Linked DNA regions of Homo sapiens: region 1 is linked to region 2. Evidence: fine-mapped expression QTL. A gene starts in region 2. The other region holds a variant in brackets. All regions are shown on one strand. Distances are from middle to middle. Region 1 overlaps DNAJB12 (DnaJ heat shock protein family (Hsp40) member B12). Region 2 holds the start of DNAJB12 (DnaJ heat shock protein family (Hsp40) member B12).

The links. PIP is the estimated chance that this variant, and not a neighbour inherited with it, causes the effect.
Region 1: its variant is fine-mapped to the expression of DNAJB12 in whole blood (INTERVAL, PIP above 0.99).

The regions. Positions count from the first base shown.
Region 1 is chr10:72,325,722-72,334,366 of GRCh38, reverse strand. DNAJB12 (DnaJ heat shock protein family (Hsp40) member B12) reads left to right here. Exons shown (of 9, transcript NM_017626.7): 9 at 1-1,504. Among named protein-coding and RNA genes, the nearest start is that of DNAJB12, 25 kb to the left of the region's middle. RefSeq lists a silencer at 2,057-2,306 and enhancers at 5,590-5,789, 8,601-8,645. The variant G/A (reference allele first, on the strand shown) is at 4,761.
Region 2 is chr10:72,349,900-72,358,544 of GRCh38, reverse strand. It overlaps DNAJB12 (DnaJ heat shock protein family (Hsp40) member B12), which reads left to right and starts at 3,626. Exons shown (of 9, transcript NM_017626.7): 1 at 3,626-3,780. The coding sequence starts at 3,648. RefSeq lists enhancers at 3,400-3,649, 4,040-4,169.

The DNA.
Region 1 (8,645 bases), 24 kb after region 2:
CCATGGCAACGAAAGTAGAATGTAAAACTCGCAGCAGATATCAGTGGGAAGGGCTGGGGGAGGGGGCACCCAGCTGCCTTTCCTCCCTCACAGGAGCCACCACCAGCCACCTCTCAGGAGAAGCCAGAGGCCCTGGCCAAAGATAGGAGGAAGAAAGAGAACTCTCCATAGAATGTAATTTATAGATGCGTGTATATGTATATATATCTATTTATATGTAAATAGGCATATATGAAGATATATATATATATAGTCTACTTTTTAAACTCTGCAGGGATTTGGTTAAGTTGTTGAGCTGATTTCTTCCATGTTTTAGAAAATGAGGCCTGTTTGGGGAAGGTACCCTGGTGATGTTTTTGCTAGACATTAGCTGTAGCTGACAGCATAAGGAGAGTCGCATCAGAGCTTTTCACAGCCCCCCGAAACCCCAGCCTGGTTTTGATGGCAGCAGTAATCATGATAGTGTGAACCCGCGAAGGCCTCAGGATTATGGTTAACCTGGAGAGGAGCAGGCCATGGAGGCAGGTGCCAGGTCAGTATTGAGTCACAGTAGAGGCCCCACAAGGACCTGCTTGGGTGAGACCACCTCTCCCCTCTCAGCAGCGCTGGTGGGCTCTTTGTCCTGGTGCCCAGGAGCCCTCCAGCCCCCTGCCCACAGAAGGGAAGGCCTGCAGAGGGGGCCAGGATCTACCTAACCATTTCCCCACCCCTAAGTCCCTCAGTGGGCTTTGCCTTATAGGTGCCACAGGGCACAGCTCCATCATTGCCACTGGTTTTTCCTAAGTCATGCACCAAGGACTTCAGAAAGTTCTTCCTCCGAGTCAGTCAGTGGTGCCGGGACCCCAGGGCAGCCTCCTCGACTCCTGAAGAAAAGGCAGTGCCCGTGGCTGCCTCTGTCTTCACTCGCTGTTGATGTGACCGCCAGGCCTCCTCTCGTACCTTGGACAAAGGATACACCTGAACCAGAATAGTTTTCTTACCCTCACATTGAAATGAGGATTTTGCTTAAAACAGCACTTGCCGCCAGTGGGAGGAGGGAGGTTTTATTTATTCCCACAGTTTCTCCTGGGCCTTCTGGAATGACCATGTTTTCCTGTGGCGGTGGGTGTGTCATTGCGCCCGCCGTCTTCCAAAGCCTTACTTCCCCAAGCTGCCAGCCAGGAGGTGATAACCACCCTCCCAGAGTTTCTCTCGGCTCTTTTTTTAAAAGTCCCCCAACAAATAGGATTCTTGCTGGGAAAGGAAGTTCGGTAAGGAAATGTCAAATCTGGTTTTTAAACAAGGTCCAACCCTGCAATGAAGCAGCCACTTCAGCCCAGAGAGATTATAAGAACTGATGTGGCCAGAGTGCCTACCCACTGTGGCCCCGGTGCTCTGCCCCCACGCCCCGACCATCTGGTCTTGGTAGATGTCCCTAGACGGGCTGAGCCATGTGCAATAAGAACATAGATCCTAAAGGATCCTCTGGAAGCTGTATTTCTTGAATTAGAATTCTCAAATTGTACATCTGTTAATATATGTTTATTATGTGACTGGCCGTGGTGGGTCTGCATTGAGCAGGGAGGCCTAAGGGGTGGGGGGGAGGGGGCACAAGCCCCTGCTGCTGCTGACACTGTCCAGCCTGTGCCACAAGGAGCTCTAGATGATGAGCCTGAATTTCCCCCGACCCCTGGCCCTGGCTAACAGCCACTTAAGCCACACATGCTGTTCCAGAACTAACTCCATCCAGGCAGAGGGGTGCTCAGGTGACTGGGGGGCTGCAGGACCTGAGCAGTCTGGGTCCCTGGGGTCCCCAGCGCCAGTCCTGGCTGGGCATCTGGGCCACGACCATCACCCTCTGCTTTTCCCTCTCCCAATCCCTCCCCCCCACACCCTCAGGCCTGCCATGTGCCCGCAGAGCATTCGAAATTCCCGGCCCCAGCCTGGAGCTCGATCCCACTCAGGAGCCAGATCCTGGGAAAAGTGTTGCGAGTTTGTTTCCATCGTCCTTCCCACCATCCTCCCCCAAACCGCCCCCGCAGCCCGCCCTCCTCTCCAGGAGGTTGAAAAAGTTTAAAATGTGGCAGCCCAAGTCGGGTCGGGCTCCTGTGAATGGAGCGGCAGATCTGCCCAGGCCTCCCAGAGACAGGGCCCGGCAGCCCTGACTGGCGGACCCAGGCCCCTCCCGCGGCTGCACCAGCCAAAGACAGGCGGGCTGCCCAGTGGTGCCACCGTGGCCCGGGAGCTCATTGGCTGCCCCTGCCCAGGGTCACCACTGCCTGCCCTGGTGTGCAAGCCGCCACTTGTTAGCTGCGGTTGGCAGAGGCGTTGCAGGCACCCCCATTCACCCACCTCATCCCCCCTGCCCTCCCTGTGTGGCTTGGCCGTGAGCCAGAGGAGGTGGGATGCACGCTCTGACTGCAGCAAAAAAGGCTTTGACAAGTGTCCCCCACCCACTGTCAGGTGGCAGAACGCGCCACTGCATCCCAGCTCCCTGGCTCCACTAGCTTATAGCCTTGTCCCTTGCTGCTCCCAGGTCCAGAGAAAAAAAAACTGCTCCAGGGACAAGGAGCACACACCCGACCTGCCTGTAACCTCATCCCCACCCCACATTGCCCAGACAAAGTCACCTGGCGTCTGGAGCAGGCACACAGCCATGCCAAGAATCAGGTAAATAGACTGTTGACATGGTTCAGAAGCAACCCAGCGTCCCTACCAGACATCACGCCATGTGACATGAGCAAGTCAGCTCATTTCCCAGAGCAGGAAACAGGCTTGGGGGAGGAAAGTGGCGCCCAGGGTCTTGAAGAAACTGTGCCTGTCTCTGGGGTCCTTGTAGCAGAGTGGTCATTCTACAAACAGTTGCTGAGCCCAAATTTGCTGCACTCAGGGAAATCAAACCCACTGGTGTCAGGTAGAGTGGGCAGAAGACCCGAGTCCAGGAGGGTGGAAAAGGATGAAAAGGCCACACTGAGGATGGTGGCACTTCATCTGATGGGCTTGGCCTAGGGAGCAGCTGCCCATTCCAGTAGGTGTCTCCTGGCAGTGACACGGGCATCCATCTGGCTGCACCAGGAAACGTCATCCCCAGGAGGCAGCCTCGCAGCCCCCACGGGGGCTGAGGCTGGATCTTTGCCATTTACTGACTGGGTGACCTTGGGTGTCCCTGAAGGAGTTCAGGAAATGCCACCCCAAAATCTGCCATTTTGGTGTGCTGATTACTTCAAACTGGGGGCACTTGAGCAACAGCAAGTGCAGGAAGGGCTTTCTCTGAAGTTGCCTCATCTGCCTAAGTTGTCCTGAACTCCCTCCTGGAAATCTTACCTACCAAGGAGGATTGACTCATTGACAACAACTGCCTATTATTCTTGGGGCTGCTCAGACAACTGTTAAGACCTGAGAGACTGACTTTTTTTTTTTTTTTGAGATGGAATCTCGCTCTGTCACCCAGGCTGGAGTGCAGTGGCGCAATCTCGGCTCACTGCAAGCTCCGCTTCCCGGGTTCACGCCATTCTCCTGCCTCAGCCTCCCGAGTAGCTGGGACTACAGGTGCCTGCCACCACGCCCGGCTAATTTTTTTGTATTTTTAGTAGAGACAGGGTTTCACTGTGTTAGCCAGGATGGTCTCGATCTCCTGACCTCGTGATCCGCCCACCTCAGCCTCCCAAAGTGCTGAGATTACAGGCATGAGCCACCATGCCTGGCCGAGACTGACTTTTTATCTGCATAACGAGACAACTTTTGCTCACCATGCAGTTCCTCCCCTCACCCTCCCAAACTTGCATTGCCATCACCCACCAGAAGCTCCCAGCCCGTTTTTTTTTTTTTTTTTTTTTTGGTTTTTTTTTTAAGGTACAAAGGTTATCCTGGACCCCAGTTCCTTTTCTGTAGCTCAAGATGTGATCTTTCTTGAAATTGCATATTTTGTGGGGCTCCCATGCCTATGTACGTAATTAAATATGATTTTTCTCCTGTTAACCACTTTATCTGTCCATGTAATTCCTAGCACAGTCAAAGACCCTAGAAGGGTGGAGGGAGCCAGTTTTTGCTTTCCTGTGTCATTTGACTGCCCTTTGCCTCAGTGTCTTCATCTGCAAAATGGGAGTGATACAAACACCTACCTCATAGGATGGTTGTGAGGAGTAAACAAGTTACCACATATAAAGCACTTAGAACAGTGCCTGGTACATGGCGAGTGCCATTTGGGTGTTTCTTGTTTGTCCTTAGTGGACAAAGATTAGCTGAGCAATGACTGGGTGTCAAGTCCCATTCCAAGCAGTGAAAGCTCCAAGGTGACTGAGACGAGGACTGCCCTTGAGTAGAAACCCTGGGAGCGGAGCAGTTGTGAAGGCTCTAGCCAGGGACTCTTGATAGAGGAACTGGCGTTTGTGAAGGAGGTGGGTACAGGCAGTACTGGGGTGGGGGTGGAGTGGGTGCTCCAGCATGAGCAGAGGCCCGGAGGCCGGAGAGTGCAGAAGTGAGCGCATTTGGGAGCAATGCCCAGGCCAGGCCCCCAGTCTGTACCTGTCATCATGCCAGGCCCACCCAGTGGCCTTGGGCAGAGAACTTTCCCAGGCATGAATGAGAGACACTGAGCTTCTCCACTCCTGGCTGCACCCTGTCCACTCAGCAATTCACTCAGCAAGCATTTCTGAACCTTTCTTGGTGGCCTGCCTGCCCTTAGGGAGGCTGCAACTAACTCTATAAGCTGAGAGAAGGCCATGTGGTGGAGGGGGTAACAGGGCAGACAGGACTGTCACTCCCGCCCCAGACCCTTGTAA[G/A]GAGATATTTCCCTAGGGACAGGGCCTGGACCTCCTGTCACTCTCACAGCCACTTGGGCATGAAATAAAGGTCCAGGGCTCAGGCAGGAAGAGGGGCAGGCGGGCAGGCGCTCTCTAGGACCCCACGGCTAGTCTGCCCAGAGCCCGGGAGTTGGGGCTTTGCTTGGGGAGGGGAGGGCCTGCCACATTTTGTCCACCTTCCCCACCCTCCTACCAATTTGGTCTAAACAAAGTCCCTAGGGAGGGAGGGCAGGGCTGCTCCCTGGCTGGATTTTTCCTTGAGGAGGCAGGGTGCAGCTCCCCACTGGAGCCCGTGCTAGTCAGAGCAGGGATCAGGCTAGGGCCTGCAGGGACCCCAGCTGGCAGTCCCACTACCTCGACTGGATTATTCTCATTTTCCTGATGGACTCAGATGAGGAGGCCTGAGAGACAGGTGCCTGGCAGCACAGGAGGATGCAGCGGGCTCCTTCAGATGGAGAAAGTGGGGCCAGAATGGAGCTGGCCAGGCCCGGCCTCATTCCCCCACACTGACAGCCCAAAACCTCCCCTGCACTCCTCCTGGCCCCACATACTGTGCAGGGCCCTCCCACCCTGACTGCAGCCTGCGGAGCCCCTCCCTCCACCGTGGAGCCCTGCTACCCGGGTTCCCTTCTGCCTGAGGTTCCTCTCACCCCTCAGGGCCCAACCTCCTGCCACCTCCTCAGGGAGGTCTGGCCTGGCCCTTTTGGGCCTCTCACATCCTGTTCTGGAGGTATTTGTGTAGTTCTTAGGCAAAGGCTTCCCTGGAGAAGAGGTTCAGGGCTGCAGCCCCAGGGCCTGGGCACCACAACCTGGGGTCTCCATGGGAGGCTGAGTGAAGGAAGGGCCCATCAGCACTGAGGCACTGTCCCCACCTGCAGCATTCCCAGCCTCGCCTACTCCTCTGCCCAGGGTCACCCTAGGGAGCTGCTTTGCAGCCATAAACCCACACCCTGGCTGGGGGACACTTCTCCCAGATCTTAGAGGGCTTAGACCCAGGGCCATCAGCCACGGTGTGCATCCAGCTGGACGGTGGCTGGAGGCAGCAGTCGCTCATGGGACGGGCACTGGGCGGGGGCTTTTTCCTTTTCCTGCCTCCGGGGGGAAGCAGAGTCCTGCTGATCCTGCTGAAAAGGCCCCAGGTCTCCTCTCCCTGCGTAAGGACAAATGTAGCAGGGGCCAAAATGAGAATCACAAACATTGGTCATTGAGAGGAGTGCGGACTCCTGTCCGAAGAGGTCACCACCCCAAGGGGTAGAGGAGGAGGCTCTCTCCAGCACTCAGGCCAGCCACTCCTGGAGTCAGACCCAATTCTGTCCCCGGCCGCCCCAGTGCTGCCCTGGCCACAAGCCCTGGAATCACCTCTGGCAGGCTCTGCCATCTGCTGGCTGCCAGCCCATGGCCTGCGTGCAGAAGGTGGCATCGTGGGCCCTAATTTTGCTTCCAGCCACAAGTCAAACAAGCCAGCTACCACCACTGCAGGGGCCACATGGGCAGCAAGTGTGTCCATGGTGTTCAGGCTGTGAGTGACAGGCCTTGGGAGGCCACCGCAGGTGCTCAGAGCTGCTTCTCTGTGGATGTCTTTAGTCCTCAGTCTCTCTCTGGTCCCACCTTGGCATGGAAGCACTGAGCCCAAAGATCGGAGTTCCAGCCTCCGCCATGGACACGCTAGGCCAGGAGGCACTTTTCATCTGTATCATTTACTTATAAAATCTTATTATCGGCTGGGTGAGGTGGCTCACGCCTGTAATCCCAGCATTTTTCGAGGCCGAGGCGGGTGGACCAAGAGGTCAAGAGATCGAGATCATCCTGGCCAACATGGTGAAACCCCGTCTCTACTAAAAATACAAAAATTAGCTGGGTGTTGGTGGCACATGCTGGTAGTCCCAGCTACTCAGGAGGTTGAGGCAGGAGAATGGCTTGAACCCAGGAGGCGGAGGTTGCAGTGAGCCGAGATTGTGCCACTGTACTCCAGCCTGGCAACGGAGTGAGACTCCGTCTCAAAAAAAAAAAAATCTTATTATAGGCTAGGCGTGGTGACTCACGCCTATAATCCCAGCACTTTGGGAGGCTGAAGCAGGTGGATCACTTGCGGTCAAGAGTTCAAGACCACCCTGACCAACACAGCGAAACCTGTCTCTACTAAAAATACAAAATTACCAGGTGTGGTGGCGCACGCCTGTAATCCCAGCTACTCAGGAGGCTGATGCAAGAGAATCACTTGAACCCAGGAGGCGGAGGTTGCAGTGAGCCCACGCCCTTGCACTCCAGCCTGGGCAACAAGATCGAGACTCTGTCTCAAAAAAAAAATCTTATTATAATTATCATCCCACAGACCTCACTAGTTCAGTCACTAAGGATGTCAGCCTCTGTCAGCCACTGAGTTTATAGGTGTCAGCCCTGCTAGCCTTGTGTCCGGAATTGGTGGGTTCTTGGTCTCACCGACTTCAAGAATGAAGCCACGGACCCTCGCGGTGAGTGTTACAGCTCTTAAGGTAGCGCGTCTGGAGTTTGTTCCTTCTGATGTTTGGATGTGTCGCGAGTTTCTTCCTTTTGGTGTGTTCGTGGTCTCGCTGGCTCAGGAGTGAAGCTGCAGACCTTTGCGGTGAGTGTTACAGCTCTTAAAGCGGCACATCTGGAGTTGTTCGTCGCTGGCTTCAGGAGTAGAAGCTGCAGACCTTTACAGTGAGTGTTGCAGCTCATAAAAGCAGCGTGGACCCAAAGAGTGAGCAGTAGCAAGATATATTGCAAAGAGCGAAAGAACAAAGCGTCCACAGTGTGGAAGCAGACCCCAGCAGGTTGTCACTGCTGGCTCGGGCAGCGTGCTTTTATTCTCTTATCTGGCCCCACCCACATCCTGCTGATTGGTAGAGCCGACTGGTCTGTTTTGACAGGGCGCTGATTGGTGCATTTACAATCCCTGAGCTAGACACAAAGGTTCTCCACATCCCCACCAGATTAGTTAGATACAGAGTATGGACACAAAGGTTCTCCAAGGCCCCACCAGAGTAGCTAGATACAGAGTGTCGACTGGTGCATTCACAAACCCTGAGCTAGACACAGGGTGCTGATTGGTGTGTTCACAAACCTTGAGCTAGATACAGAGTGCCGATTGGTGTATTTACAATCCCTAAGCTAGACATAAAGGTTCTCCACGTCCCCACCAGACTCAGGAGCCCAGCTGGCTTCACTCAGTGGATCGTGCACCGGGGCTGCAGGTGGAGCTGCCTGCCAGTCCCGCGCTGTGGGCCCGCACTCCTCAGCCCTTGGGTGGTCGATGGGACTGGGCGCTGTGGAGCAGGGGGCGGCGCTCATCGGGGAGGCTCGGGCCGCACAGGAGCCCATGGAGGGGGTGGGAGGCTCAGGCATGGCGGGCTGCAGGTCCCGAGCCCTGCCCCTCAGGAAGGCAGCTAAGACCCGGTGAGAAATCGAGAGCAGCGCCGGTGGGCTGGCACTGCTGGGGGACCCAGTACACCCTCCGCAGCCGCTGGCCCGGGTGCTAAGCCCCTCATTCCCCGGGGCGGCAGGGCCGGCGGGCTGCTCCGAGTGCGGGGCCGCCAAGCCCACGCCCACCCGGAACTCTAGCTGGCCCGCAAGCGCCGCGCGCAGCCCGGGTTCCCGCTCGCGCCTCTCCCTCCACACCTCCCTGCAAGCTGAGGGAGCCGGCTCTGACCTTGGCTAGCCCAGAAAGGGGCTCCCACAGTGCAGCGGTGGGCTGCAGGGCTCCTCAAGTGCCACCAAAGTGGGAGCCCAGGCAGAGGAGGCGCCGAGAGCGAGCGAGGGCTGTGAGGACTGCCAGCACGCTGTCACCTCTCAGCTTGACCCATGTCAACTTTGTATAAACACCCCACTGGGGGGGCCGGGGCC
Region 2 (8,645 bases):
TAGATACACAAATACTTCCCATTGTATTCGGTATGGTAATGTTCTGTACAGGTATGTAACCTAGAAGCAACAGGTCATACCTTAAACCCTAGGTGTGTAGCAGGCTATACCAACTTAGGTTTGTATAAGGACTCTATGATGTTCGCACAGTGATAAAATCACCTAACAACACTTTTCTCAGAACATATCCCTGTCATTAAGTGACACATGACTGTATCTTGTAGTCAGCAGGAGAAGACAGGCCTCATGATAGGAAATGGAAGAGGATACTTCATGATTCTTAGCAGGAGACAGGAAGATGGAAATTGTCGTGCTAGGTCAACAAACCTCAGAGAGGCTGTTTGAAAAGGATCCCAGCATTTATCCATGGACACATTAGGGACCTATCAATTTGTAGAGAACTTAAATTTCTCCAAGTGTAGGACTGTCTTATCAAGGAGGGTCTGTACCAGGCCAGCATGGAGTCGTAAGGGTTTGCATTGGAAAGGGAAAAATGGGAATGGAAAGGAAGGTTGGATGTGAAAGAATTTTCCAAGGAGCATGTATAGCTGAGGAGGCCATGACCTTGCTTCTTTCTTATGTGTGTATTTATTTATTGAGACAGGGTCTGACTCTGTGCCCAGGCTAGAGTGTAGTGGGGCAACCATGGCTCCCTGCAGCCTCGACCTCCCAGGCTCATAATCCTCCTGGGTAGCTGGGAGTACAGGCGCATGCCACCACACCTGGCTAATTTTTGTAATTTTTTTTAGTAGAGATAGGGTTTCACCATGTTGGCCAGGCTGGTCTTGAACTCCTGACCTCAGGTGATCCACCCACCTCACCCTCCCAAAGTGCTGAGATTACAGGTTTGAGCCACTGCGCCCAGCCACCTTTACTCTCTTGAATCCATTCCTGTTGGGTTTTCACCCCTACCACACACTAAAAGCCATTTTATGGTCAGGCACAGTGGCTCACACCTGTAATCCCAGCACTTTGGGAGGTTGAGGTGAGAGGATCACTTGAGCCTAGAAGTTTGAGACCAGCCTAGGCAACACAGTGAGACCCCATCTCTAAAAAAAAACTTAAAAAAAAAACTAGCCAGGTGTGGTGGAGCACTCCTGTAGTCCCAGCTATTCAGGAGGCGGAGGTGGGAGGATTGCTTGAGCCCAGAAAGTTGAGGCTGCAGTGAGCCATAACTGTGCCACTGCACTCCAGTCTGGGTAACAGTGAGACCCTGTCTCAAAAAAATAAAATGAAATAGATAAAAGCAATTTTGTCAAAGTCAACACTGCCCTCTACACTGCCAAATCCATTGGTCATTTCTCAGGCCTCACATTGCTTGGCCTCTCCACAGGATATGACGTTTGACCCCCCCTCCCTCCTTTTCTAAAAAAACTGTTTGTAGAGACCGTGAGGGGGGGCGGTCTCATTATGTTGCCCAGGCTGGTCTTGAACTCCTGGGCTAAAGCGAGCCTCCCACCTCAGCCTCCCCAAGTGCTGGGATTACAGGCATGAGCCACCATACCTGACCTACTCATTTCCTTACAACCTGCTTCTTCACATTCTCCTTTACTGGATTTTCTTCCTCTTCCAGATCTTTAAATGTTGGGATTTCGTGAGGCTCAGTAATCAGACTTCTCTGCTCTTCTCCATCTACACTCACTTCCTTGGTGCATATATATATATATATATATATATATATATATATATATATATATATATATATATATATATATCACAGCTCACTGCAGCCTTGACCTCCCATGCTCAAGTGATCCTCCCACCTCAGCCTCCTGAGTAGCTGGGACTACAGGCGTGTACTACCACACCCAGCTAATTTTTTATTTTTTTGTAGTGATGGGATCTCACTCTGTTGCCCAGGCTGGTCTCAAACTCCTTGCCTCAAGTGATCCTCCCACCCCTGGCCTCCCAAAATGTTGGGATTATAGGAGTGAGCCACTGTGCCTGGCCCCAAAGTTATATTTCCAGGTCCTTTTTGCCTAAACCCTACGTATGTACAACATCCTAGTCTGTATCTCTGCTTGATTCTAAAAAGCATCATAAACTGAATCAAACCCTTAATATTCCCCCACCAAACTGCTTTTGTAGTCTTTTCCATTTCCTTGTTTTAGTAAATAGAAATTCTCTTCTTCCAGTTATCAAGCCAAAAACATTGGAATCATCCTTGAATCTTCTTTCTCTCACAGCCCACATCCATTGCGTCATTCTGTCTTCAAAATATATCCAGAATTTTACTACTACTCACCACCTCCGCCATCACCCTTATCCAAGTTACCATTAATTTTCACCTGTATTATAATAGTAGCTTCCTGACTCTCATCCGGATTACTGTAGTAGCATCTTACCAAATCCTGCCTGAAAGGCCAAGCAATGTAAGGGCTGACAGATGACTCGGGGATTCGGCAACGTGGAGGTCACTGGCAACCTTCACAAGATTGCTTTCACTGGAGTGATAGCCCTCGAAGAACGGGATAATGATAGAACTGGATTACACTCTGTAGTAGAATCTTTTTTTTTTCTTCTTTTTTTTTAGATGGCGTTTCACTCTTGTTGCCCAGGCTGGAGTGCAATGGTGTGATCTTGGCTCACCGCAACCTCCACCTCCCAGGTTCAAGCGATTCTCCCGCCTCAGCCTCCCGAGTAGGTGGGATTACAGGCCATGTGCCACCATGCCCGGCTAATTTTGTATTTTTAGTAGAGACGGGGTTTCTCCATGTTGGTCAGGCTGGTCTCGAACTCCTGACCTCAAGTGATCCGCCCGCCTCGGCCTCTCAAAGTGCTGGGATTACAGGCGTGAGCCACCGCGCCCAGCCTGTAGTAGAATCTTTACGCTCCCTAGAATGTATTCGCCTTCCTGATCTGTTATAACTCACCAAGAGAATTCCCTTTTCAGAGCCTTTGCACTTGCTGTTCCTTCGGCCTGACCACCCTTCCTCCAGACAGTCACATCTACCTGTTATCGTTCCTGAATTCTGGTACCTGTTAATGACAGCTTCTGAGAGGTTTCTTTTATCGCGCTATTTAAAATAGCGCCTCCCACTCTCTATCCCTGTGTTTTCCATAATTTTTCTTCAGAGCTTTTATCACTATCTGAATCTATCTGGAGCTCCCCCAGCCTACACACACTGGAATGTAAGCTCCATGAGAGCAGGAGCTTTGTTTTGCTCACCCCTGTATCCCCATCATAAAACCATGCCTCACAAACAGTGGGCACTCAATATCTGTTCAGTGAATAAATAACCTTTGTCTGAAACGTATGTAGTTACATTACGTATATAGATCACCACTTAGTAAACCGTCTGGGAATAACAGGCACTCCGAAGGCCCCAGTCTCATCCCGACGGCTACCACGTGACCTTCCTGAGCTTGGGTTTCCTCCTCCGGAAGATTAGAGGGTTGGCGCATACTCAACTCTAAGACCTCCGGAACATGGAATCTGGGCGTGCACCATTATTGACACCTACACCAGCCGTCCCTTTCTTAGAAGACATACGGTAGCACTTCCACCCTCGCTCAAAACTCGGGAAAGGAGGGGCGGAGGGTGGATGTCATCACTCCGCGCCCGGCTGCCCGCGACGCGCCGGCGGGTGGCGCAGCCCTTCGCTCGCCCGGCCTCCCCCTCCCTGGTTCCGCGTTCTGGTTCCGCCATGGAATCCAACAAGGATGAAGCTGAGCGCTGTATCAGCATCGCCCTCAAGGCCATCCAGAGCAACCAGCCCGACCGGGCGCTCCGCTTCCTGGAGAAGGCACAGCGGCTGTATCCGACGCCGCGAGTTCGCGGTGAGTGTGAGGTGCCGGAGAGACTGGGGACATTAGAACTGATGGGGGGAACACGGGAACGGACCGACGGGAGCAGTTGGGGGAGGGGGAGGGGTGGCGAGGCGCGGCTACGCCTGCGCACTGAGGCGCGCGGTGGCTGCTGGGAGGCGTAGTTTTTCCCTCTTGTTCCTCTGCGGGATGCGAGCCGTCTGGAGACTCGGGCGGCCGGGACTTCAGCTTTCGGGGTGCTGGCGGAGCCCGCTGGGGTTTGAGGTCTCCGAGAATGAAACGCGCTGGCAGCCGGGACGAAGGGAACTTACCTGGAAGTGAACTCGAACTACTTTTCCCAAGGGGCCGTTCGGTAGCCCAGGCCAGTCGCCGGCCTGGGAAATATTACAGTTCAGGAAAATAAACATAACTCCTTTAAGGGAGAGAATGGGCGCTAGACAGGGAGACATTTCTGTTCTTCGGGCGCCAGGGAAAGGCGCTTCCGTATCTTCACTCCCTCTCACCTCTCGGGCTGAGGGTCAGGGACCACTCTCCCAAAATGCAAGCCGGCCTTTGCACCCACCCCAGTCCGCCGCCTCGGACTGTCCTGAAGCCGGGCCCCTCACTCCTCCCGATGATGAGATTCGGAGCGGGTGGCCTGGTGGGAGGTGCTGACCTCAGCCACCGCCAGTCCTCCATCGCCCGCAAGAGTCCAGCGGCGGTCAGCCATGTGGACGCCGAGGCTGCTGAGTTGCCCTGGACAGGAGCCTCCTGAGCCAGGGAGGGAAGAGTGAAGCTGGCTTTACAACTCATCACCTCGCTTCACCCGGGAACCCTTTCTTTTTTCTTTAACCTAAGTTTTCCAAGGAGTTTTTCTTAATCCACGCTAGAGGGGAGAGAGACACCGGGTGGTGCTTGTGATCACCACTCAGTAAACCGTCTGGGAATAACAGGCACTCCGAAGGGCCCAGTCTCATCCTGACGGCTACCACGTGACCTTCCTGAGCTTGGGTTTCCTCCTCGGGAAGATTAGAGGGTTGGCGCAGATAATGTGATTGGCAATAATACCCATAGGGCTTTGCAGTTTAGGAAGCTCCTTCACCTGTGCCTTCTCACTTGAGCCTGCCAGTCAGGGATGCAGAGCAAAGATCATTATCTTTATTCTATGGGTGAGGAAAATCTCTGAGGTAAGGGATGCCCAGGATGACACAGCTAGAAAGTAAAATGTTCTGTGACTCTGTAAATGTTTATGAAGGAAAAGAAATGAAATTGAGGAACAGCAGTCAGCCTCCTAACCGGCCCTGCCCGCCTGATGAGATTGAGAAAGCGGAACGCTGGTGGAAGAGGTAGCCTGGACTGCTGAACTTTCCTCCCTCCGGACTCTTGCAGGTTGATCTTTGGCCTGTTTGCCTCCCCTTGGAGAGGGTTTCGGGCTGTATTTGCCAGGACACCTGAGGTAACCTGCTCGAGGAGCCTCCCTGTGAATTAATTCATATTCTGTGGTGGGGTGGTATCCTCCAGCTGTCAGAATTCTGCCTGACACTGATGCTGCTGCGGGCTCAGGAGCAGGCAGCCAAGAAAGGATGGGCCACAGGGCCTCTGGGGATCTTTCTGTCAGCAGGCCCCTGCACCAGTTCAGGAGCTTGAAGGAGTGTCCTCTCTGGGGCTCAGGCTCTGGAATTTGCTGAGACAGAAGAACCACCTGCATGCATATTTGTCATATTTGTGCTTTTCTGGAAAGACTATGAGACTATACGCCTTATGCATCCGTGTAAACTTTACCATCTGCAGCCCTCCACTGAGCTGACAAAGACCTGGGATTAGTTTAGGTCTGGGACAGGGAAAGATCTTACTTCAAAAATAGAGGGCAGGGCTACCCACTGGGCTGGCTACCTGCCTCCCCAGGGGGAGTAATACAGATATATTAGGTGGCGGTCTATTGCTTTGGGTTTAGGCTCATCCCAGATGCTCATTCAATGCAGCAGACTTTTGTTGAAGATCATTTATGTTTTGTTTGCAAAGTCCTCTGCTTGGTGCTAGCAAGATTGGTAAAATGTGATCCCTCACCTCAAAAGAGCTTATAATCTAGTGAAAGAGACAAAACTTACAGAAACAAATATTACAAGACAGAACTGTAATTAAACAAAAAATAAACCCAAGGTTAGACGCTGAGGACTTAAGGACAGGCATGAAAAAATCAGGCCCCATCATCCATGGGTTCACAGTCTGATGGTGGGGAGGAGGTGCGGAGGACAATCTCCTGAACATTAAATTATCAGCAGTTTAGTGAGTGCTGTAGCAAGTGCATAAAAATAATGTTATCTCACAGTGAGGGAATGCTTTGGGGATGACAGGAGTTAACATTTGAATTGTGCTTTGGAGGACGGTGTGAGACTTGAGGAAAGGCATCCTGGAAGAAGACAAAGGAGCTGAAAGTTGTAACGTTTGGGGGAAGAGATCAAAGTGTAGCAAGATTTAGAGGCAGTGGAGGTGGTAATTCGTATACAGAGAGGATTAAGTTTGGGAAATAAAATGGGGCCAGATCATAGAAATCCTTTTCTACCAGGCCAAGATATTTTCACCTTATTCTGTAGTTAGTGAGGAAACCATTGAGGTTTTTGATAGCAGGAATAAAGTACGGGCACTGTTGTTAAAAGAGAACAGCATGAAAGGTTAATGAGAGGGAAGAGAGCTTCAGGGCAGGAAGCCAATAGGAGAGAATTGCCTTGAGCTGGTTGGATATTCTGAGGGCCTGGGACAAGGCAGTCATGGATAAGGCTAAGGTCCCTGGAAAAGAGGCACCAGGCCTGTGTGAGAGAGAGGTGCAGAGGAGAATCAGATGGGATGCTGGGGAATCAGAATTGAAGCCCCTGTGACCAGGAAGAAACCAGGCTGAAGAACTGAGATGGGAAGAGATGAGCAGAGTGGGAGGTGCCAGTGGGATAGTCCAAAGGAGCTGTCAGCCTGGAACTCAGGAGAGCGCTCCAGGTTACAGGTGAAAGTGTGGTATCGTCTGTTCCCTGGAGCTCACTGGAGTTGTGCATGGCTGAGGTCACTGTGGGAAAGTATAGACCATGGAGAGAAAGTTGCTGCAGGCACAATGGCAGGCAACACCTGCCCTGAGCCCACAGGCAAAGGCAGAGGAAGCAACAGATTGAGATGGAGCAACAGGAAAAGGCAGTCCCCGGAGAGGGCAGCGGCCAGGTAGCCATGGAGAGGTAATGGCAGCAGGTGGTGAGCAGCCCTGTGTGATGCCGCAGGCACTGCATGGGAAAAGGACAAGTTAAGAGTTGAAAAGGGAAGGATCGAGAGCATGGGCAGAGGATGGTCTTGGAGAGGTGGAAGGGCAGAGAGGGGAGAGTCACGAGAGAGGGGAGGCTCAGAGCAACCTTGAAAGGATGAGGGACCTCACACTGTTGGCCTTTGCAGCAAAAAGGGATGTGAGGGGGCTTGAAACTCCTGCTGCAGGAGGTGGGACAAGGAGGCACTGAGTTAAACTGCAAAGCAGTAGCTGGGCCCTAAGCTGGGAGGTCACAGACTAGAGATGGTGGAGCCAGTCAGTCCCTTTCTGGGAGTTTCTGTCCAGTAGCTGGCAGCCTGGTAAGCCATTGGCTTTGACTCAGGCTTTGTAACAAATGTGGAAGGTGCCAGATTTCCCAGGGAGCTCACGAGAGCATTTGTAGGCCTCAGTTTCCCCAGCATACAAAGAGAGGATTGGCTGGGATGATCCTGAGGTTCCTTGCAGCTCAGGCTATCCAATGTTCTGTGAAATGGTTGACTCTGGGCTAAGTCATGAAGGCCAAGCTGGGAAGGCCAGCCCACAGGAAAAGGAGACGGATTGCTGAGGGATTCTGCATTCAGAGTCCAGGAGTGAGAGATGTTCTGGTGCTGGCGAGGTCCGGGGTGGGGTTGTACCCTTCAAGTCAGTCAACCTTCATGAGCCCCACTGTGCACTTAGCCCCCTTCCATTCACTGTATTTCACAGAATCTTATTTACCCCTCAGAGCACTCCTATGAGAGCAGAGATCGTCTCTCCACTCAGGAACCAGCTAACCTGGCAAGGCCACATGGCTAGCCAGCAAAGACCCAGAGCTGTCCATCTCCAATCCCAGGCCCTTTTCTGACTCACTGTGAGCACCGTAGGTACACAGAGCCCAGAAACTCAGCTACTCACTTACTAACAAAGTCACGGTCAGAGACAACACTGTATATTTGCTGGGCATTGGGCTGAGTTTTTTGCTGGCATTCACTCATTTCCTCTTTTAGCCTGTATGATGGAGATAGAGTTTTGCACAGATGAGCTAAGTTACCTTGTCCAAGATGACCCTTCTAGCAAATGGCAGAGCTAGGTTTGAACCCATCGGGCAGTCTTTTTTTTTTTTTTTTTTTTTTTTTTTTTGAGACAGGGTCTCACTCTGTTGCCCAGGCTGGAGTGCAGTGGCACAATCACAGCTCACTGCAGCCTCAACCACCCAGGCCCAAGTGATCCTCCCACCTTAGCCTACCAAACAGCCGGGACCACAGGCATGTGCCACCACACCTGGCTAATTTTTTTATTTTCGTAGAGACAGGGTCTTCCTGTGTTGCCAAGGCTGGTCTCGAACTCCTGAGCTCAATCCATTCTCCTGCCTTGGCCTCCTAAAGTGCTGAGATGACAGGTGTGAGCCACTGCCCGGCCAAATCTAACTCTAGTCTGGGTTCAGTGGCTTTGGCCATAGAAATCCTCTCAGCTCTACCTCAGGTGCCTCTCCACCGCAGCTCTGTTCTCTTCTATCGAATTCCCTTCCTTTTCTAAGTCTGCCAGCTTTACTGAGAAGGTAACATTAAGCTGTTCTGTCTCTTTTTGTGACATTGCCTGTCAGCCTCTGTGCCATGAGGGATGTAAGCATGAAGCTGTC